Linked DNA regions of Homo sapiens. The protein of the gene in region 3 interacts with the protein of the main gene of each other region in a pairwise test. Each region holds a gene or a part of one and is shown on either strand. Other genes may lie near its edges.

What was found.
Region 1: the proteins of TBC1D23 (region 3) and WDR62 interact in binary tests that used the Homo sapiens proteins (3 or more experiments, as listed by UniProt).
Region 2: the proteins of TBC1D23 (region 3) and CAGE1 interact in binary tests that used the Homo sapiens proteins (3 or more experiments, as listed by UniProt).

Annotation. Positions count from the first base shown.
Region 1 is NC_000019.10:36,064,630-36,072,642, forward strand, and holds part of WDR62 (WD repeat-containing protein 62), read left to right. Parts: intron 1-1,328; coding exon 1,329-1,386; intron 1,387-1,627; coding exon 1,628-1,798; intron 1,799-2,676; coding exon 2,677-2,814; intron 2,815-3,198; coding exon 3,199-3,381; intron 3,382-6,926; coding exon 6,927-7,087; intron 7,088-8,013. UniProt on the Homo sapiens protein: Required for cerebral cortical development. Plays a role in neuronal proliferation and migration.
Region 2 is NC_000006.12:7,372,302-7,380,314, forward strand, and holds part of CAGE1 (cancer-associated gene 1 protein), read right to left. Parts: intron 6,720-8,013; coding exon 6,316-6,719; intron 1,831-6,315; coding exon 772-1,830; intron 1-771.
Region 3 is NC_000003.12:100,277,404-100,285,416, forward strand, and holds part of TBC1D23 (TBC1 domain family member 23), read left to right. Parts: intron 1-2,245; coding exon 2,246-2,357; intron 2,358-4,338; coding exon 4,339-4,444; intron 4,445-6,203; coding exon 6,204-6,408; intron 6,409-8,013. UniProt on the Homo sapiens protein: Putative Rab GTPase-activating protein which plays a role in vesicular trafficking. Involved in endosome-to-Golgi trafficking.

The DNA.
Region 1 (8,013 bases), on a different chromosome or scaffold from region 3:
TGCAGCAGCACGATCTTGGCTTGCTGCAACCTCTGCCTCCCGGGTTCAAGCAATTCTCCTGCCTCAGCCTCCCGAGTAGCCGGGATTACAGGCTCCTGCCACCACACCTGGCTATTTTTTGTATTTTTAGTAGAGGTGGGGTTTTGTCGTGTTGGCCAGGCTGTTCGCGAATTCCTGACCTCAAGTGAACCACCCACCCCTCTGCCTCCCAAAGTGCTGGGATTACAGGCGTGAGGCACCGCACCCGGCCCCCATTCCTTCTCTCCTGTTCCACCCCATTTATTGTGAGGCTTCTGGTCTTGAAGTCACTTCATGGCCCAAGATGGAGTTCTGGCTGTCGTGTGCGTATTTCAGGAGGGGAACTGGTAGGAAGCAGGGCAAAGGGTTCCCTTTGACGAGTATTTCAGGAAGTCCCACACAGCATGTCAGTTTACTTCTCCTTGGCCAGACTAAGTCATGTAGCTGTACCTGCATAGTTGCAAGCATAAAACTGGGGTTATGTCAGTAAGGAAAGAGAGGCGAGTGGATATCCAGGAGGCAGCTTGCCCTGTTTGTTGCAGTAAGGAGCCACGGGAAGCCTGGGAAGCAGGTTGACTTGATGATGAATATTCCATGAAGTTGCCAAAGTCTCACTTAGCGACATTTACTTAGTTATCTACACACCAATTTACCATCTCACGTAGGGAGACAATTATTAGATTGTTAAGGAACAAAGGTAAAAATAAGATTAAAAGAGAGAAGGGAGTAGAAGGAAACCATACAATCTGGGAACAGTGAATCTTGCTGCCAGAAACCTACGAGCTAGCCTGTTCATTCAGTGCTTGTGCAGGCTAGCTAGGAGTATCAGAAACATTTTGGCTCTTTATGGATTTTCCAGAACACCTTGAGTATTTAGCAGTGGAGCACAGGCTGCAGGCTACCTTGATGTGATGCCTGCCAGGATCCTCCCATCAGCACCACCCGTTTAGTTAGGCCAGGCCTGTACCATTTCCTGCATCTCTATTTCTCAGTGTTACAGGGTGGATAGGGTCTTAGGATACCCACTGCGGCAGAGGGAGAAGAAAGCAGGGTCCGCATACAGTGTCTACTCCATTTGGGTTTGGTGTCTCAGGGCGGAAGGGGCCTTTGCATTTACCCCCATTTCTCTGTGTGCTTTGCTGGGCACACCAGCGGCACTGGCTCTGTGGGAGCTGCTTGAGCTCACCTCTGCTGGCCTCTTCCGAGGCTTGGGAGGCAGAAGAGGGCAGAGTCCTATCAGAGTCGCCAGGATGGGGTCTGGCTGGCCACCCTCAGCGGAACCAGTGATCAGCTCTTTTCTTTATCCCCAGGAAGTCTCTCAGTGCTCTGGCCTTCTCCCCTGATGGGAAGTACATAGTGACAGGGGAGGTGAGTCGTGATCGTGACTGAGTGGGAGTCGGGGGCTGGGGGGTCTTGGAAGCCATTCCTTCTGCTCCCGGCAGGCCTGGGAGTCCCTGGAATAGCTCCTTCCTGGGCCAGAACAGCCCTGTAGCAGATGGGGGAGGTGGCTTTTGGGCACATCCTGTGGCAATGCCATCTTCGGCCTTGACAACCCTCTAGCCCTGCCCAGTACAGAGCCCAGCAGCAGTAACGACCCCACCTTCCCTAGAATGGGCATAGGCCTGCTGTGCGCATCTGGGATGTGGAGGAGAAGAATCAGGTGGCGGAGATGCTAGGCCACAAGTATGGTGTGGCGTGTGTGGCCTTCTCACCCAATATGAAGCACATCGTGTCCATGGGCTACCAACATGACATGGTGCTCAACGTCTGGGACTGGAAGGTAAGAGCCGACCAGCAGGCCTGTGGCAGGCAGCCAGCTGCCACAGCATCCTATGTCTTGGGCACAGGGAGAGCTACATGAGAGGACGCAGTAAAGTGCTCACTCACCCAACAGATAACAGCTATTGAGCACCTGTGACATGCTGATCCCTTATTGTAGGGCACAAGGCAGGCTCCCAGCTAGAAGCATTATACATATTTTTATATTGACCAGCTGTGACCTTAGGCAAGTGACTTAACATCTCTGTGAGTCTGTTTCCTCCTCTGTTAGATGGATATAGTAGTACTTATCTTGTTGAGTTGTGAGACTTTAATGAGTTGATAAGCACTGGAAGGCTGGGCTTTGGAACAGCTGTGGAGCTGGCAGAAGTGGGTACCAAGTCCTGGCTCTGCCCATAACCCACTATGTGACCTTGAGCACATGACATCTCCCCCTCTGAGCCTGGTAGGGTTGGGGAGAAGCGCCTCCCTCGTGGGGCTTTTGAGGGATTGAGGAAATTTCATGGGTTATCCTGTGAAGGGCTCAGGGCAGGGCCCAGAGCAGGAGCCCCATCTGTGACAGCCATAGGTTGTGTTGTCCTTACATCCCAGCCGTGACTGTCCCCAATACCATGTGTGGGCTGCAGAGCTTAGACCCTTGGAGAGAGCTCTGGAACATACTGTCCCATGGGGACCATTCCAAGCCTCTGTCCCTTCCTCTGTCGGTGAGGAATGAGCAGGGTGCCCCACATAGGTTTCCCCATACAGCAGCTCCCTGGAGGGTCCCAGGAAGACAGACTTGGAGTGGGGACGAGCAGGGAGTTCCAGCCTGAGGGCAAAGGCACAAACAGTCCAGTGGAATGAGTGCTGGCATGAGCTTCTCTGCACTTATTCTTCCAGAAAGACATCGTAGTGGCCTCCAACAAGGTATCTTGTAGAGTCATTGCCCTCTCCTTCTCAGAGGACAGCAGCTATTTTGTCACTGTTGGGAACCGCCATGTGAGGTTCTGGTTCTTGGAAGTCTCCACTGAGACAAAGGTGAGTTTCTGTCCCTGCCCCTTTAGCCAGGCCCTGAGGGAGTCACCATCGGTGGCAGCATGGTCTCCTGTTTCTCCCTGAGATTTGAGGGCAGCGGTCTCGGGCCATTTGGCCTCTCAGGGGCCCAGCTGCTGCTTCTGGGCCTACTCTCAGGGTGCTGATGCACAGGCCCTGCCAGGAACCCCCTGACCCTGGGACCAGCTCTCATTCTTGGACTGCTGCTGTCCAGCCCCTCTGTCCAGAGTGGCAGGGTTCTAGTGTTTTCTTCCCTTCTCCATTTGGAAGAGCTTCTTAGAGTTCTCCTGTTTTGTTGTGTCCTATCATCTGGTCATGCAGGGCCCAGCTGTGTGGACAAGTATCTCACTACGCCCTCTGTGTCTCCAGGTGACGAGCACAGTGCCCCTTGTAGGGCGCTCGGGCATCCTGGGCGAGCTGCACAACAACATCTTCTGTGGTGTGGCCTGCGGTCGGGGCCGGATGGCGGGCAGTACCTTCTGTGTGTCCTACTCGGGCCTCCTCTGCCAGTTCAATGAGAAGAGGGTGCTGGAGAAGTGGATCAACCTGAAGGTACCACCTCCCTCTCTGCCATCAGCTGGACAGACTCTTTCTCGTGATATGTGTCTGCAGGGGTGCTCATCAGCATTGACCACACAGGTTCTGCTTATGTGACTAGTGGTGAATGACGCCCACTCTCTGAGCTTAAGGTTCCACATCTGTAAAATGGGAGTACTGCTGCCCTCCCCGCAGAGCTGATAAGGAAGTCACGTGAGATAACATAGGCAAGGCAGTGAGCACGGTGCTTGGTACCCTGAAATGGGCTCAAGGTGACAGTTGTTTTCCCATGACTATTTGATCTACTTCACATTTCTTTTCTCCTTTGAGCACTCTGGCTGGTAGAGGATTGCATTTTTTTTTAATTAATTTATTTTTTTTTATTGATCATTCTTGGGTGTTTCTCCCAGAGGGGGTTTGGCAGGGTCTTAGGACAATAGTGGAGGGAAGGTCAGCAGACAAACAAGTGAACAAAGGTCTCTGGTTTTCCTAGGCAGAGGACCCTGCGGGCTTCCGCAGTGTTTGTGTCCCTGGGTACTTGAGATTAGGGAGTGGTGATGACTCTTAACGAGTCTGCTGCCTTCAAGCATCTGTTTAACAAAGCACATCTTGCACCGCCCTTAATGCATTTAACCCTGAATGGACACAGCACATGTTTCAGAGAGCACAGGGTTGGGGGTAAGGTCATAGATCAACAGCATCCCAAGGCAGAAGAATTTTTCTTAGTACAGAACAAAATGAAGTCTCCCATGTCTACTTCTTTCTACACAGACACAGCAACAATCTGATTTCTCTATCTTTTCCCCACCTTTCCCCCTTTTCTATTCCACAAAACCGCCATCGTCATCATGGCCCGTTCTCAATGAGCTGTTGGGTACACCTCCCAGACGGGGTGGTGGCCGGGCAGAGGGGCTCCTCACTTCCCAGAAGGGGCGGCCGGGCAGAGGCACCCCCCATCTCCCGGACGGGGCGGCGGCAGGGCGGAGGCGGACCCCCACCTCCCTCCCTGACGGGCCGGCTGGCTGGGCAGGGGCTGACCCCCACCTCCCTCCTGGACGGGGCGGCTGGCCGGGCGGGGGCTAACCCCCCACCTCCCTCCCGGACGGAGCGGCTGGCCGGGCGGGGGCTGACTCCCCCCACCTCCCTCCCGGACTGGGCGGCTGGCCGGGCGGGGGCTGACCCCCACCTCCCTCCGGGACGGGGCGGCTGCTGGGCGGAGACGCTCCTCACTTCCCAGACGGGGCAGCTGCCGGGCGGAGGGGCTCCTCACTTCTCAGACGGGGCGGCTGCCGGGCGGAGGGGCTCCTCACTTCTCAGATGGGACGGCCAGGCAGAGACGCTCCTCACCTCCCAGACAGGGTCGCGGCCGGGTAGAGGCGCTCCTCACATCCCAGACGGGGTGGCGGGGCAGAGGCGCTCCCCGCATCTCAGACGATGGGCGGCCGGGCAGAGACGCTCCTCACTTTCTAGACGGAATGGCAGCCGGGAAGAGGCGCTCCTCACTTCCCAGATTGGGCAGCCGAGCAGAGGGGCTCCTCACATCCCAGACGATGGGCGGCCAGGCAGAGACGCTCCTCACTTCCCAGACGGGGTGGCGGCCGGGCAGAGGCTGCAATCTCGGCACTTTGGGAGGCCAAGGCAGGCGGCTGGGAGGTGGAGGTTGTAGCTAGCCAAGATCGCGCCACTGCACTCCAGCCTGGGAAACATTGAGCACTGAGTAAACGAGACTCCGTCTGCAATCCCGGCACCTCGGGAGGCCGAGGCTGGCGGACCACTCGCGGTTAGGAGCTGGAGACCAGCCCGGCCAACACAGCGAAACCCTGTGTTTGGTGGAGACCAAAAAAATACGAAAACCAGTCAGGCGTGGCGGCGCGCGCCTGCAATCGCAGGCACTCGGCAGGCTGAGGCAGGAGAATCAGGCAGGGAGGTTGCAGTGAGCCGAGAGGGCAGCAGTACAGTCCAGCTTTGGCTCGGCATCAGAGGGAGACCGTGGAAAGAGAGGGAGAGGGAGACCGTGGGGAGAGGGAGAGGGAGACCGTGGGGAGAAGGAGAGGGAGAGGAGGATTGCATTTTTTAAAAATTGGAGGTACCATTGATTTAATAACTTTTCAGTCAAAAAAGACTACACAAAATACATAAACTTTTATTTATTTTTATTTATTTTTACTTTTTTTTTTTTTTTGAGATGGCGTCTCACTTGTTGCCAAGGCTGGAGTGCAGTGGCGCAATCTCAGCTCACTACAAGTTCCACCTCCCAGGTTCAAGCAATTCTCCTGCCTCAGCCTCCCAAGTAGCTGGGATTACAGGTGCCTGCCACCACGCACAGCTAATTTTTGTATTTTTAGTAGAGACAGGGTTTTACCATGTTGGCCTGGCTGGTCTCGAACTCCTGACCTTTAGTGATCCATCCGTCTTGGCCTCCCACTGCGCCCGGCCATAAACTTTTAAACTAAAGCATGATCTATCGATACATTGCAGAGCTTCTTTCCTTTAGTATCTGAAGGTTTGAGTCAAAGCTGTTTTCCCATCTGGAATCAGTTGCCCATTTGGCTATCCGCCCGAGCGTTGTGGTTTCCTCTCCTGTTCCTGGCCTGCCTTTGTGACTCACTCTGGAGATCACCTTCGAGGTTAATGGCTTGTGGAAGAGTTCCAAGTTTTATCTCTGTCCTAGTTGGTTAAACATCATTTTCTCTTTTTCAAGCAAGTGAAAAGCTTTCAATAGATAGATGTTTATTTCCTAAGCACTAAATGACTCATAAATTAAGTCCCTGTAGATTTGGAAAAACTCCTTAAACTGTATCTAGAGGTCTAGCACTTCCTAGTAGGATAGACAGTCCTTTCTAGATACTGTAACTTTTTTCTGTACCGCTTTGGAGTACAGTCTTTATGAAGTTGTTTGTAAGCAAAAGGGAATAAAATTTAAGCCTAAAGGCTGGGCGCGATGGCTCACATCTGTAATCCCAATGCTTTGGGAGGCCAAGGCAGGTGGATCACCTGAGGTCAGGAGTTCAAGACCAGCCTGACCAACATGGTGAAACCCCATCTCAAAATACAAAAAATTATCTGGGTGTGGTGGCGGCCGCCTATAATCCCAGCTACTCTGGAGGCCGAGGCAGGAGAATCACTTGAACCCAGGAGGTGGAAGTTGCAGTGAGCCGAGATTGTGCCATTGCACTCCAGCCTGGGCGCAACAAAAAACTCTATCTCAAAAAAAAAAAAAAATTTAAGCCTAAAATTCAACCCTGTTACTACAAGTGACTTACCTGAAGTTGCAGTCTGCTGAACAGGTATTTTCCATACACAGCTACGTTTCTCTGTAGACAGCAGTGACAATTCTGTTTCCGTTCATGCCTCTGCCTACCTGCTGGCACATGTCTTTCAATAGCAGCAGTATGCTATATCCTGATTTCACAAATCTTAAAATATGCTAAAATGGGTGTCTTAGACCCAAGGAACTGTAAGTCTTCTCTGGAGGCCTAAGGCTGCTCTGTCAGTCCCCATATCCCCGGGCCAGGCCACGTGAAGCACCAAATCCACTGGGGTCCCTTTTGCCCCTACAGGTCTCCCTGTCTTCCTGCCTCTGTGTCAGCCAGGAGCTCATCTTCTGTGGCTGCACAGATGGGATAGTCCGCATCTTCCAGGCCCATAGCCTGCACTACCTCGCCAACCTGCCCAAGCCACACTACCTTGGGGTAGACGTGGCACAGGGCCTGGAGCCCAGGTACTGCCCTGTGGGGAGAGGGAATGGGAGGGGCCCACCCAGAGTCTGTCCACTGGCATTCATCCATGCTTCCAGATCCATCTATCTGTCTGTCCATCCCACAAATACCCATCATGACTCTCAGCCCTGGGCATTACAAAGCAGAAAAGTCCTTGCCTTCCGAGGCAAGCCTCACAGTGAGAAGTGAGGCTGGGTAGGGGGAAGAAACAGTGAGAAAACAAAGGAATAATATCATTTCAGATAGCGGTCAGCATGGTGAAGAACAGTGCAGAGCAGGTGTGAATGTGGCGGAGTGTTTCCATCCACATGGCTGACCCCTACTAAGTGGCTGCTAAGTGCCAGCCCTGGGCTGGAAGCAGGACATGCCTATTATAATGAAGCAGCAAAATCTCTGCCTCTCTGCAGTATAGCAAGGGGGCTCGATGATAAGCAAGTACACGAAAAAGATAATTTCAATAGGCATGAGTGCTTTGGGGAACACAGCAGGGACTCGGGAAGGAGAGTGACTGGGGTGGGCTGTGCTGATTGGGTGCCTGGTGAGAAGGAGCTGCTGTGTGGAGAGCTGGGTCCCAGCAGTTGAGGTGACAGCACACTGGGCTTGTTACGTTGCAGGAATAGTAAGGGACTGTGTGGCCAGAGCCCAGTGTGTCCGGGGAGGATGGTGGGAGATGAGGCCAGTGTGGGGCGCCTGTAGTCTATCCTCAGGTCAGTGGGCAGTTGCTGGGGTTTCGGGCGTTGGGGTAAATGACCAGGCCTTACATGTTAGGTCCCTCAGCTGCTGTGTCGAGAGTGGATAGAAGCACTAGGCTGTGGCTTTCTTCTCCTTTGTTGCAAGTCTGTTTTATGGAATTGGGGGCTACCTAACCAGGGGGTGCCAGGTGCCTAGGGCTGCCTCTTTGTGGATTTCTGGATGCTAGCTCCTGGGT
Region 2 (8,013 bases), on a different chromosome or scaffold from region 3:
TCTCTACTAAAAATACAAAATTAGCTGGGCATGGTGGCGCACGCCTGTAATCCCAGTTACTCCGGAGGCTGAGGCAAGATAATCACTTAAACCTGGGAGGCAGAGGTTGCAGTGAGCCAAGATCGTGTCACTGCACTCCAGCCTGGGCGACAGAGCAATACTGTCTCAAAAAAAAAAAAAAAAAGTAACTGCTGGAAGATGCTTTTGATGACTGGCAATGAGTACCCACAAAATTCCCACGTTAATGGCCACCTCTACCAAAAGAACCACAAGAAGGCAGGAATAGCTGTTCTTTGAATATTCATGAACCAAAAGAAACTTCTCCAAACCTGTGGTGTATTTTCCTTTCCATATCTGTTTTTCTTTTTTCTTTTTTTCTTTTTTTGAGACAGAATCTTGCTCTGTCACCCAAGCTGGAGTGCACTGGCACAATCATAGCTCACTGCAGCTTCAAACTCCTGAGCTCAAGTAATTCCCCCATCTCAACCTCCCGAATAGATAGGACTATAGGCGCACACCACCATGCATGACAGATTGGCTGCTTTAAAAAATGTTTTGTAGAGATGGGGTCTCACTATGTTGCCTAGGCTGGTGTCAAACTCCTAGCCTCAAGAGATCCTCCTGCCTCAGCCTCCCAAAGTGCCGAGATCTGTTTCTTTCTTTAATAATTCTTTCTGCAAACAAATATAAGTGCCACGTCTAAATACGCATCACTAGACCACTAGAAACTCTTGAAATTCCGCATTAGAGATTTAGAATGTGTATCAATACCTTGGTAATATCTGACTTCAAGACTTCCTCTAATTGATCCTTTAACTGAGCTGTCTCAAATTTAGGGACATAATTTTGCTCTTCACTCCTTGCAACCTGCTGTTTAAGTTTTGCATTCTCATTTTTTACTTCGTTGATTTGCTGCTGAAGTTTTATATTCTTCGTTCTTTCATTTTCAGACATAAATTGCAAATTTCTAACTTGAGTGAGCAATTTCTCAAGTCTAGATTTCAGTTTCTGTCTTTCTTCCAGGTTTTCCTTTTCAAGTTTCTGGAATTCCTCCTGTAAAGACAAGAACTCTTGTTCTTGGGCCTCTTTTTCCCGTTTCAACAAGTCCAAAGCAGAAGCTGTGGCCTTTTCCAGTTCTTTTTTGAGTTGTTGTAGTCTCTCTACCTCTTCTTCTTTCTTGCTTAAGGTTTTGTCCATCTCTAAATACTGACTTACAGATTTATTTTTTTGTTGCATTTCAGTCATGTACCTTTCCTGTAAACACACATAATTAGCCTTGATCTTCTTAAATTGAAGCTGTAACATTTCCTTGTCATTCCTGGATTCCTGAAGATGTTTTTGCGTGTTAGCTAAAACCTCTTCCAAATTCTGCAATGTCTTTTTAGTATCATTCTTCTCTAGGATTATTTTGTATTTGTCTTCAATTAATTCTTCAACATTCTCCTTTAGCTTATTGATGACATCAATGAACACTTGCTGTTTGGTAATCTTCATCTGTAGTTCTTTAACCCTCTTCTCTAAATACAGGTTACTACACTGGAGTTCTTGGATTCGCACTTCCTGCTTTCTGTTAGTATGTTTTAATTTCTGCAAGACTTCATTTAAAGCCATGTCCTCTTGAACAGGTTGTAAGCTTTCAGCACTTTGCTCCCAGTCAGGCATCTCACAGTTCTCCCGACATGCTTCACTCCTCCAGGAAATGCCTGCCGAAGACCAAGTTGAGACAATTTCTGGCCTCTCCACACCCTCTGCTGTGACTTCCTTTTCATAACTGACTGACATCTCAGGAATCTCCCCATAATTCTGTATTTCTTTTGAAGGAACTGCAGTCTGTAAATTATAGTAAACAAAGTAAGTGTGAACGAGTAGAAAGATAATGAGCTTTCAAGTCAAATAGGGCTGGCCTTGAATTCTATTAGTAGATCCCCTGTTTGGCTTTCTCCGCTATAAAGTAACAATAGTATCTACTTCCAATAATAATGCCTATTAACAAAAGTTAATACCTATGTATTAATTGCTAAATGTTTGTACAGCACCTAACAGCACAGCAGGGCACAGGCAGTAGGTATATGACAGATATACATCCCATTTACTTTGACAAAAGGAAAATTAAACTTTCATCCTCTTACCATTTTCTATTATGCAAACTTCTCTGAACACATATAAGATGCTTTGACTTCAAATAAATTCAGACAAATAAATGTATCAATTACCTTACAGACTGCAAGTTCTCTCTCTTTTTTTTTTTACATGTTATTACTGGGCCAAAAGTTTGGATTTTTAGGGGGGAAAGTTCTCTTCTCTTTTGAATATTTTTTATTCCACATTTAGACCATTATCTCATTATTCTGTGACTCTCAGGAACATTAGAATGGCAGAAGAACATGCCTCATGATTGACTTTATGCTGCCGATAGAGGTCTCGAGGAGGTTATAAAAAGACAGTAGGCCGGGCGAGGTAGCTCACGCCTGTAATCCCAGCACTTTGGGAGACTGAGGTGGGTGGATCACCTGAGGTCAGGAGTTTGAGACCGGCCTGGCCAACATGATAAAACCCCATCTCTGCCCAAAATACAAAAATTAGCCAGGCATGGTAGCACATGCTTATAATCCCAGCTACTTGGGAAGCTGAGTGAGGCAGCAGAATCACTTGAACGCAGGAGGTGGAAGTTGCAGTGAGCTGAGATCACACTACTGCACTCCAGCCTGGGCGATAGAGCGAGACTCTGTCTCAAAAAATAATAATAATAAAATAAACAAATAAAAATAAAAAAAGACAGTAATTTGTGGTAAGAAATGGTGAAATGAATATGACATTAAAAACCCAGGGCCGGGTGCAGTGGCTCATGCTTGTAATCCCAGTACTTCAGGAGGCTGAGGCGGGTGGATCATGAGGTCAGGAGATCAAGACCATCCTGGCCAACATGGTGAAACCCCATCTCTACTAAAAATACAAAAATTAGCTGCGCGTGGCGGTGTGCACCTGTAGTCCCAGCTACTCGGGAGGCTGAGGTAGGAGAATTGCTTGAACCCTGGAGGTGGAGGCTACAGTGAGCCGAGATCACGCCACTGCACTCCAGCCTGGGCGACAGAGCGAGACTCTGTCTCAAAAAAACAAAAAACAAACAAACAAAAAAAACAAAAACAAAACCCAGGCCAGGCACAGTGGCTCATACCTGTAATCCCAACACTTTGGGAGCCCAAGGTGAGAGGATTCCTTGAGACCAGGAGTTGGAGACCAGTTTGGGTAACACAGTGATACCCTATCTCTTCAAAAAAAATATTTTAAAAATCAGTCAGGTGTGGTGGCATGTGCCTGTAGTCCTAGCTCCTTGGGAAGCTGAGGCAGGAGGATTTCTTGTGGGCCATGATCACACTGCTCTCCAATCTGAGTAACAGAGCAAGACACCTTGTATCTAAAATAAATAAATAAGTAAAAACCCAGTAAAAGGTATCTGTAGTGGTGTGCTGTATAATTCTCTGGAATTTAGAGACAAGGACTTCTGTATTTTGTTTTTTGAGCTCATCCTTCTGCAGAACCTTGTATCTTAATGGTTTTTCATTGTTCTGGGATAAAGATAACTATCATTACTGAGACCTACAAGGCCCTAATATCTTGCTCTTGATATCTGCTGTGCTTTAAATGCATCCCCTAAAGTTAACGTGCCGGAAGCTTGATCCCCAATCCCCAGTGCAACAGTGTTGGAAGACGGGGCCTAGTAAGAGGTGAATAAAAATGACTAAATGTTGTTATCACAGGAGTGTGTTAGTTATCACAAGTGGATTTGTTACAAAAGTGAGTTTGGGGGCTGGGAGTGGTGGCTCACACCTGTAATCCCAGCACTTTGGGAAGCCGAGGCAGGTGGATCGCAACGTCAGGAGATTGAGACCATCCTGGCTAACACTGTGAAACCCTGTCTCTACTAAAAATACAAAAAATTAGCTGGGCGTGGTGGCACACACCTGTAATCCCAGCTACTGGGAAGGGTGAAGCAGGAGAATTGCTTGAACCCGGGAGGCGGAGGTTGCAGTGAGCCAAGATGGTGCCACTGCACTGCAGCCTGGGCGACAGAGCGAGACTCCATCTCAAAATAAATAAATAAATAAATAAATAAATAAATAAATAAATAAATAAAATAAAAGTTAGTTTGGCCTCCACTTGCTCCCTCGATCTCACCTTCTTTTGCCCCTCCACCTCCCACCATGAAATGACAGCACAGAGACCCTCGAGTGATGCTGGCACCATGGACCTAGCCTCCAGAACCGTGAGCCAGATAAATTGTTATTCATTATAAATTGCCCAGTCTGTGATATAGTTGCAGCAAGATGAAATGAACTAAAGCAGTATCTGACCCACACCACCTCTCTGTCTTCATCTGCTGTACCCCTCCTCCTTCCTCCAACTCTGATCTTCCTGGACTCAGGGCTTCCTTCAGGTCCTAGTAGGTACCATGCTTCCTGTGGCCACAGGGTTTGCAGACGTTCTTCCTTCTGTATGGAAGGCTCTCCTACCCATGGCTGCCTAATTAACTTCTACCCATCCTTTAGAGCTCAGCTCAATGATCATTTCTTCAGGGATGCCTTCCCCAGACTCCCTGATCAGGGTAGTGTCCTTATCATAGATGCCCAACCTACTTACATATGCAGCACTTATCATAGTTGCAAGTTTATCTGTAACTTGATATAGCATCATAGCATAAATAGTAACTTTATATAACATGCTCTACATATACTTTATATGTAACTTTATTCACCTTATTGATCTTATTATAGTTGCAAGTTCACATTTATTTGTGTGATTGATTAATGACTACCTCCTCTAGTAGGATGCTGTCTTCATGAGGACAAGAACTACATCTTTTTGTCTATTTTCTAACCATCACCTAATGTGTAGTACAGACCTGCCATGTAATAGATGCCTAAAAGTATCTATTGACTGAATGAAAAATGGCTAAATGCAATGAAAAGAGGAAAGAACAATCTTGCGAAACCCTATTTAAGCTGATTTTTAAAAGGTTGTTTTCCAGAAATCAACTTGGACAAATAAAGTCCTTTTAAATGCTGTCATCTACTTTCAAAAAAATGAAAATGCTCATACTTGTAAATAAGACATTATAGTCATAGTGTTTCCCATCAAACTCACATTGGAAAGGTATTATTGGCCAGGTGTGGTAGCTCACACCTGTAATCCCAGCACTTTGGGAGGCCAAGGCGGGTGGATCGGCAGTTCAAGACCAGCCTGGCCAACATGGTGAAAACCCGTCTCTACTAAAAATACAAAAAAAAATTAGCCAGGTGTGGTGGCACACGCTTATAATCCTAGCTACTCAGAAGGCTGCAGCAGGACAATCGCTTGAATCCAGGAAGCAGGGGTTGCGGTGAGCCAAGATCATGCCACTGCACTCCAGCCTGGGCAACAGAGTGAGACTCCGTATCAAAAACAAAACAAAACAACAAAAAAAGAGAAAAGGTATTACTTATACTATTCTTGAATTTTATCTATTTTCCCATACCAATTCCTAGTATTTTTAATTTTTTTGTTCAGAAAGTACACAGAATATATACTGTCGGTATCTTCAGTGCTCTTAGGATACTACATGTGTGCTCGGAATCAATAAACCAAATGATAAACTAATATTTTCACTTTAGTAGAAAAAGTAGTATTTTTTGCTTGTCAGTAGAATTCCAATATGACAGAGAAATCTTGTTTTTCTTGAAAAATGAATTAGTGCCTCTGCACTCCTTCCTCTTCTTGACCTTTCCATCAGTGTAAACTCTGCTACTTCCAGCCATTTTGATTCAACAAATATAAAAGCTTATTATATTCAGACTGCTCTGTCTACACAGTAGCCATTCTTTTGTTTCTTTACTTCTCTAATAAACTTGTTTGTGGTGAAAAAAAATTATGGTAAAAAAAGCTTATTATATTCAAGGAAACATATAGACGCTGTGGTGCATAAGAGGGTGAGTAAGACAGTCCTGATCCTTAGAGAAATTACCATTTGGTAGAGCTAATCCTCAAGTATGGACTTGATTTTACTAGAAAAATTTATTTCTGAATTGGCTAAGATCTCAGAATGCATTTTCCCCAGAGAAGCAAAGTCCCTCATGCTAACTAGGTGATTTAACACTACTTGGAAAAGTCTCAGATTATATATATATATATACAATTTTTAAAATGCATCCTTTAATACTCCACAGGCTTTACTGACCATCACAATCGTACCTCCTCTGCTTTATAATTAACTCTCAGATGAACTAGGTTAGAACTATTCTCTTTATCAAATGGTTTTACAATATTATTGTGTACACTTTCCTTACATAAGAAGCTTGGAGGTTGGCTAGGGTTGAGGGCAGATTCCTTGGCAATACTTTTAGCCAGTGACTTTTCTGTAAATTTCAGCATCTCTCCACTGCAGTGGATTAGAGGCGGGCTTCTAGGAGGAGGCTGTCTAAAATACTCGTTACCAAGTTGGTCTGTATTTGCAGAAACACTAGTTTCCATTGGATTTTCTTCCTTAAATGAGTCTTGCTTTATATTGTTGTCTTTTGCATAATTATACACTTGACTTTGAAATTCTGGCTTCTCTGTCATTTCATCATCAAATGCTTCTACCCAGTGAAATTTGCAAACGGTTTCAAATTGTCTCAAGGAAGATATGCTGATGGTGTCAACTGGCTGAATTAGTGCATTCGTTGAGTAATTTTCAATGTTGTTATCTCATAAGAAAGAGAAAGAAGGAAATAAAAACGAGTAGACCATGAACTTGGATGGTAACAGTTATATTTATATTTATCAAATAAACTGCTGTAGCCACTTAAAAATTATATATTATTTCAACCTTATTTACTGTGTGAATTTTAGCATGGTTTTGTGCTAGCAAACAAAACAAAACTTTTTACATGGGGGAAAGAAGTCCCCAAATGACTGCTAGGAAAAAGTGTGTTATATGTAATTCTGGTCAAATAAAATTACAATAAATTTCAAGAGATCTTCAAAATTCTTTTGTTGTACTGTAATTTTAAGATGTTTTAAATTATACAATGTTTCAAAAGGACAAGGATAGTATAATAGAAAACACATATAAACTTGCTTAATCTCACAAAAATCCCATGATGTCAGTACTGTTATTATCCCTATTTTACAGATAAGGAAACTGAAGTGTAAGAGATGTTAAAGTCACTTGTCCAAAGTCACAGAGCTGCTAAGCAGTGCTGCTGAGATTCTAGACTACTACTTCTAAATGCTATGCTATACTATTTTTCAATATGACAAATTATGCAGATGTAATGTTTTTTAAAATCAGGAGCAAATAAGAAAACAGAATGTTACAAATTATTGATCCCTTTTATCTAACTTTCCTCCTCCCCAGAGATAACCAGTGTACTGAAGCCCATATGTATTCATTCTTCCCATTCCCATTTTACTTTTACTACTGATTTATGTATCCTAAATAATAAAATCAACATAATCTTGCCAAAGAATAAAGTTCCCAGATTTCCTCATTTTGTGACACCCTTAATGTCTCAGTACTTTTTTTCACAGTACCTCTGGACCAAAAGGAATACTTAAGTTCCATTTAGTAAATAATTAAGTTCAAACTAGTATTTGTCCTAAGTTATTAGCTGTTTGAAAATACACATAAACTAAAAGAAAAATATAATATTTTATTCTTAAACAACCACACTTTACTACTTGGATGTACACTGTTAGGCACCGTACAGCACCTCAAATCGTGGAATCAGATTGGAGACCACCACTCTCACTTCCTATTCCACAATGATTTTCATACGGGACTTGCTTTTTATTATAGCAACCTCCAAAAACCTACCTTTACAAATAAGACATCATAGGAAGGACTATAGTATGGGTTTATAGTGAAAACTACAGCTAACAGATTGTGGGGGTCTGATAGATGTCCAGTGTCACTGTTTCCCTCAAACTCCAAAATACCCTGCAACACTTTAGGTGAGTGATTAATATATAGTATTGTTTTATGTGCTTTTATATTTT
Region 3 (8,013 bases):
CCTTGCTCATGGTTGTACTGCTGGAGAGCACATTTGTGGTTCCCTGGAGACAGCATCAAAGACTCCAACAGCAGCTGTATCAACAGAGATGTGTTTGTACATTATTGTGATTTAAAAAGTACTTTGAGGATTGGGCATTTTGCAACAAAATACAAGCTTTGTTCTCTGGAATAGTAGGGGATTTGGCAAAATTACTTCAAAAAGAAAAGGATTTTGCACTAAAAAGTGAATAATTCTAATTCTTCATCTAGTAAAATAATTTCATCCCAGTAAGTAGTGTTTTTAGTCCCTCATTATTTGACACATTTGACCATTTAAATATATGGTATTTATTCACCAAAGATGCCATTAAATTTTCTTTGTTTCATGGTTACTAACAGCCTGCCTTGTACATTTTGGCCAGAAGAGAAGAGATAAACCCCAGTTTTTATCAGCTATAGGCCTGAACTCTCAACAGTAGACTTGAAATCTTTTTCTCTACCTCTCCCTTCCAACACTTTGGTGACCATATAGCAAAAGAACTAAATGTTTCTTGTGTGGTTATTAGTTATCTTCTGTTCATATGAATTTGTAGTAGCTTTGTCAAGGAACCTTTCAAATTCGATGAGTACTTTTCTGTTGAGTATGATCCTAAGTGATTACATTTTCATTTAATTCCTTTCTCTTAGGAGAGCAACGCTTTATGAAATTTATACATTTAAACTAATATTCTTAGATGCCTATCAGTGGGGAAGTTTTCATTGTCTTAGTGAAAAAAATGAAGAGTGGGAATAATTTATTTTCTTCAGAACCACCAAAATGGGACAGAAATCCTGATTTCCTGATCCTAGTGAGATCATCTGCCTTTTAGGCTGCTTCAAAGAATGTTACAGATTGTCCAGGTTATGAAGCTCTTAAAAATTTGTACAGATTTTTAATGTATGCTGAAATCATAAACAATGACTGAAACCTCAGTTTTTGAAAATTCCTAAGGAATTGATTGATTTTTTTTTTTTTTTTTGAGACGGAGTCTTGCTCTGTCACCCAGGCTGGGGTGCAGTAGCATAATCTTGGCTCACTGCAACCTCCGCCTCCTGGGTTCAAGCAATTGTCTGCCTTAGCCTGCCAAGTAGCTGGGATTACAGGGACCTGCCACCACAGCCCGCTAATTTTTTGTGTTTTTAGTAGAGACGGGGTTTCACCATCTTGGCCAGGCTGGTCTTGAACTCCTGACCTTGTGATCCACCCACCTTGGCCTCCCAAAGTGCTGGGATTACAGGCGTGAGCCACTGCGCCCAGCTGGAATTGATAATTTAACTGGTTATTTTCTGGCTAGAAAACAATGTATACTTTTGTAAAAGTATTCTTTTAATTATTTTTACCTTATACAAATGAAATTAAATTCATACTTTTCTCCTTAAACATCGTAGACTGAACAAAACTGCTTGGTAATTTACTTGATGATGTGATATTATTCTTTTGCTTTAATATACCAATAGATCCTTTTTTCCCTCTAACATTTATTTAATACTTATTGTAGGCTAGGCACTGCTCTAGGCATGATACTGATGTAGTCATTTACTAAATAGTCTCAGGCTGCAGTGTTTTGAATTCTTGGCTGAATTGAGCATAATGTTAAGAACACGAATTCAGGAACCAGACTGTTAAAATTTGAATCCTGGCTCTACTGCTGATATGACATGTGACCATAATATGACATGTGACCCTATACCATAATACTGGTAAACACCTAAAAGAACAGTAACTTTTTAATACCAATGAAGTTATTTCTTCAGTTGTCCCCTAAATGTCTATAACCCTTCTTTGCCTCCATTTTTGCATCTGTACGTGGGGTCAGTGATGTAACCTACCTCATAGGGATTGTTATGAGGATTAAAAAGAACACATAAAATGTTTGAAATAGTGCCCCACACATAGTTGCTATGTAAAGTTATTACCACCACCAGGAATACTGTTATTACTATGACTTCACAGTGCTGTCAGCCAGCTTGCCCCATCTCCTCTTTAAATTTCTCTAATCTAGGAAAAGACAACCAAACTAAGGGTAAAATGAGAGTAAATTGACTGTATGAAGCCTGAGATTTCCCACAAGAAAACATGCTGTGTATACCTTGGCATTACATTTTGGTTGCTGAGAACTTTTGTTTCTTAGACAAGCCTTTAATAGGCCATGCTTATAAATGAATCTTGAATAAGAAAAAGTATGAGATAAAGTTCATTTTAATAAATAGGACTTATTTTTTAGGGAAAAAGATCTTGAAGAAGCTCTGGAAGCAGGAGGTTGTGATCTTGAAACGTTGAGAAATATAATTCAAGGAAGACCGCTGCCTGCTGATCTGAGGGCCAAAGTTTGGAAGGTAACTAGAAACTAAAATGAATAAAATGTAATCACTGAAGAATAATATTTTTAAAAGTTTGTTGCTTCAGATGTCTTAGTTGCAGAAAACTTTATTACCTTATGAGCATGCCGCATCTAGATTTATCAAACAGCAGCTTATTAAAATGTTTGTTTCTGTAGTGTTTGGTATATTTAACAATAATGGCTTAGATTTTGGAATGTAATATATGCTTTTGTAGCCATTAGAAATGGTGTTTATGGGGCCAGGCACAATGGCTCATGCCTATAATCCCAACACTTTGGGAGGCTGAGGCAGGCAGATCACCTGAGGTCAGGAGTTCAAGACCCGCCTGGCCAACATGGTGAGACCCCATCTCTACCAAGAGGCCGAGGCAAGAGAATCGCTTGAACCCAGGAGGCGAGGCTACAGTGAGCCGAGATAGCGCCACTGCACTCCAGCCTGAGTGACAAAGTGAGACTCCATCTCAAAAAAAAAACAAAAAGAAATGGTGTTTATGAAAATTTTCTTGAAACAAGATACAATCAGTGAGTAAAATAGGATGTATATTTGCAGATACAGAATGATCATAACAATGTTAAAAATAAAAAAGGAAGTATGCCTCTGGCTGTTGGGTTATAGGAGATTTTCCCTTTGTTTTCCTCTATTCAGCTATTCTACAGTTCATGTGTATTATTATTTTTTAAAATTTTGAATTAAGGCATTGTTATGATTACAAAAGAAATACATATATTTGTGGAAATATATACAGCATAACAACCACAAAGGATAAAATAAAAATCTGTTACCTACCACCTATAGGTAAAACAGATGAGGTCTTGGTGCTTACCTTTTTACCTTTTTGCCCTATGCACATATGTAACAGAAATGGAATTAAAACTGTACACAGCATTCTGAGCATTTTATTATAGAAGTTTAAGCACATGCAAAAGTGTAGAACTTGTATAATGAACTCCCATGTGCCCATAACCCAGCTTTAACTGGTATCAACATTTAGCCAGTGTTGTTTGATTAGTATCCTCATCCTTTCCTCCCCACCCAACTCACTGGATTGTTTTAAAGCAAATCCTTGCTAGCATACTAAAAGTCTGAAACGTTTAAAAGAATGGTAATTCCTGGCTGGGTACAGTGGCTCACACCTGTAATCCCAGCACTTTGGGAAGTTGAGGCAGGTGGATCACCTGAGGTTAGGAGTTTGAGACCAGCCTGGCCAACATGGTGAATCCCCATCTCTACTAAAAATACAAAAATTAGCTGGGCGTGGTGGTGGGTGCCTGTAGTATCAGCTACTTGGGAGGCTGAGGCAGGAGAATCACTTGAACCCGGGAGGCGGAGAGGTTGCATTGAGCCGAGATCGTGCCACTATGCTCCAGCCTGAGCAAGAGAGCGAAACTCAGTCTCAAAAAATAAAAAAGACTGGTAATTCCTTAATATCATAAAATAATTTCTTCAGTTGTCTCATACATGTGTTTTTATGGGTGATTTGTTTAAATTTGAATTCTAGTAGGTCTACCTGTTGCATTTGGATATGTCACTTAAGATTCTTTAAATCAATACAGTTTATTTTACATTTTAAAAAAAACCTTACAAAACAGTGAAAACATTTGCTCAATTTATTAAGTATTCTTTTGTATAATTTTAAAATGTACATGGCACAGATGTACTTTTTCTTTGCCAGTACATTCTGTTGTTTTTACATTAAAAAAATTGATTGTGTAAATTTACATATCTAAATATATAAATATTTTGGGTAATTTATTGTATTCACTAAATCAACATGAAGAAATATCTAATGTAGGAGGACTTAAAATAATTCTGCTGGTTGTGACATGACTAAATACTCAACATTTGGTGGAGTATGGATACCTTAATTGTAATCTTTGTTATTATTTTTAAATTCAGGCCTTTAATTATTACAGCATATTTTCCAAGAATGAGGAATAACATATGAAGCTAGTCACTTTTTAAATCTTTCTTCCAGATTGCTCTGAATGTTGCAGGAAAAGGTGATAGTTTGGCATCATGGGATGGTATTTTAGACTTGCCAGAACAGAACACTATTCACAAAGATTGCCTGCAGTTTATTGGTAAGCTGAATAATCACTTTCAAGCAGAGTTAAATTTTGGAAATAATTTTTGGGTTGAGGAATCACTCTTCAGAATAATCTTATAATTTCAGAATTTGTAAAAGGCTTGTAAATAGCTTTAGAACTTTTCTTTGGAAATTCTTATGAAATATTGTCTATTAATTTTAAGGGAGCCTAGTTTTGACTGGGTGCAGTGACTCACACCTGAATCCCAGCACTTTGGGAGGCCAAGGCAGACAGATCACTTGAGGTCAAGAGTTCAAGACCAGCCTGGCCAACATGGCAAAACCCTGTCTCTACTAAAAAATACAAAAATTAGCCAGGTGTGGTGGTGGGCGCCTGTAGTCCCAGCTACTTGGGAGGCTGAGGCAGGAGAACTGCTTGAACACAGGAGGCAAAGGTTGCAGTGACCTGAGATCACACCACTGCACTCCAGCCTGGGCACAGAGTGAGACTCTATCTCAAAGAAACAAAAAAGATAACCTAGTTTTTACTGTTTCTTTTGCATTATATGTTAGATTTTTCATGTACATTTATGGGTTTGTTGTAGTCTTAAATTTGATTTTTATATAATTAAAGATCTATATGATTGTATGCAGCCCTCAAAGGGGAGCTTTGTTCCAAAAGTTTATCTATAAATCATAGTTTGTGGACTGCTGTAGAGAAACTACTATAAATTGTGATTGAATAGGTTTCCAGTCACCCCACAACATCTATTTCATTTCACAATGTGGATGAATTTAGTTTATACTTCTTTTAAATTCATCTCTAGTGCATTGTATTTTTGTTTCTCTTTCCATCATATTTTAGTTAAATTATTAGCTTGATAGGCCTATGTGTGGTAAGCACAGCAGAAACATTATTGCTGGTGTGGACAAAAGAAAGAATTTGATAGTGGAGAATGAATTCCTTTCCCTCTTCTTGCCAAAATTATAGCAACAACTGCCCATCATGGAGTAGGTGATAATCTGTTTAGAAAACCCTTTTGCTTCCCAGGAATATGGGCTATGCCTATCTTTACCTATCCCTTTAATTCAGATTGGCCATTCTTATGTTTGACATATATATAGATCAGGTATTACTAAGTGCTAATGTTTAGTAAATACTGAATGTATAGAAGTCTTCTGTTTCTTTCCCTTCTCTCTCAACAGACTAGGTAAGAAAACATGCTTAAGTGAAACTGTTATTCTTAATTTTCTTTAAATTTTCTTTAAACTGTCTTAAAGTTAAAAGACTGTTAGAAGGCCAGGCACAGTGGCCCATGCCTATAATCCCAGCACTTTGGGAGGCCGAGGCAGGCAGATCACCTGAGGTCAGGAGTTCGAGACCAGCCTGGCCAACATGGTGAAACCCTGTCTCTACTAAAAGTACAAAAATTTAGTTGGGTGTGGTGGTGCTTGCCTGTAATCCTGGCTACTCGGGAGGCTAAGGCAGAAGAATCACTTGAAATCGGGAGGTGGAGGTTGCAGTGAGCCAAGACCGTGCCATTGCACTCCAGCCTGGGTGACAAGCTAAACTCCGTCTCAAAAAAAAAAAAGGCTGTTATAAAGCGTTTTGACTGTGTGTTTTCCTTGGGTTTTGGATCTGTGAACCAATGATTGTTAAAATAAGTATAAGGGAAAATATACTTTCATGTAGTTTCACTTTGTCTTTCTCTAAATGCACTAACATAGTATTATATATTTGTAAACAAGTGTTATGTCCAATAACAGCCCCTGACAGGCCCTCAGTAACTTTATTTTTAACATTTATTTTCTAGACCAGCTTTCAGTGCCAGAGGAGAAGGCAGCAGAATTACTTTTGGATATTGAATCTGTAATTACCTTTTATTGTAAATCACGTAACATTAAATATAGCACATCCCTTAGCTGGATACATCTACTGAAACCATTGGTGCATCTTCAACTGCCACGCAGCGATTTATACAACTGCTTTTATGCCATAATGAATAAGTACATTCCCAGGTAAAATATGATTCAGTTATTGTAGTTTTTAAAAGTGAATACAGGCCTGGTTTGCTTTGAGCTAAAGTTGCTAGATTTACTTTGGCGGTAAAGTAAAAGGTTCAAATAATTTTGAGGATTGTTTGATCCATAATTGTTATTTTATTTTTGTGGTTATAAACATTTTTTAAAAGATTCTTTAGTTAAAAATGTATACTTCTGAAACAGTGGTTATACTGGGGTTGGAGTTGGGGAGGAAGTGGGGAGATTTAGGTCAAAAGGATACAAAATAGCAAATAGGTGTGATGAACAAGTCGAAAGACCTAATATGCAATGTGGGGACTCTAGTTAATAATAGTCTATTATATTGAAGATTTTTGCTAAATAAGTAGATTATAGCTGCTTTTGCCACAGAGGGGAAATTGGGAATATGAGATGATAGGTGCATTATTTTGTTCCACAATAGTAACCATTTTACTATGTATGTGTTTTTTATAACGTGTTGTATAATGCACAGAAATTTATTTTTAAAAAATAATTTAAAAATTAAAAATTTCTAGAGTTTATATATATAATTCTTCCAGTTTATTTGGTGGTATCCCTATTTTAATTTATTTGCCTATAAAATATTACAGTGTTCAGGTGAAAAGTAAAATTTCTGGGGTGTTACCTTATTGAGCTTGGAAGGAAGTCCTAGAAATATAGGCATTGAACAAGTAAATTGAAGTGTGCTGAATGTTAGAAAGGTGAAATATAGAGTGCTATGGGGATGTATAATGGGGGCAACCTAACTTACCTTGGAGGTCAGGGATGGCTTTCCCATGGTAAGTGGCATTTGAGACCAGACAGATGTGCAGGTGGTTGTGATGGGGGTTGTAGTGGGGGTCGTGGTGGTGGGCAGCACTCATGAGGCCAGAAAGAATTGTTGTAGTTCCCAGTGCAATAGATCAGATAGTTAGAATTTTAGTACCAAAAGAAACTTTAGACATAGTCTAGACTAGTGGCTTGGCTGTACAACCTTGAATGCACATTAGAACTATTGGGGGAGCTCTTAAAAATCCTAATGACTATTTGCATACATGAGTAATTAAATGAAAATCTCTTGGTGATGGGACCTAGGCATCAGTTTGTTTAGAGCTTACTAATTAATTTCAGCGTGTAGCCAAGGTGGAGAACCGCTAATCTGGACCTTGATAGTTAACTGACTCTTATTTTTTACTACTTTCTAAGTGATACCACACTGTATGAGGTATAAGTGTTTTGTATGGTTCTCTACCCTGGTTGCTTGTTAGAATCAACTGAAGCACTTTTTCTTTTTTTAAATAACGACTTTATTGAGATATAATTTATATTCCATAAAATTCACCATTTTAATGTGTACAATTCACTGGTTTTAATTATAGTCACAGAGTTGTACAGCCATAACCACAACCAATTTTAGAACATTTTATCACCCCAACAAGAAATCCCCTTCCCGTTAGTGGTCAACTCTCCATTTTCCCCCAAAATGGGGGGAATGATTGGTATGATTCTGTATATAAGGAATCATACCTTATATGTTTTTGTGACTGCCTTTAATGTTTAGCATTATGTTTTCTAGGTTCATATTGTATCATATATCTTATT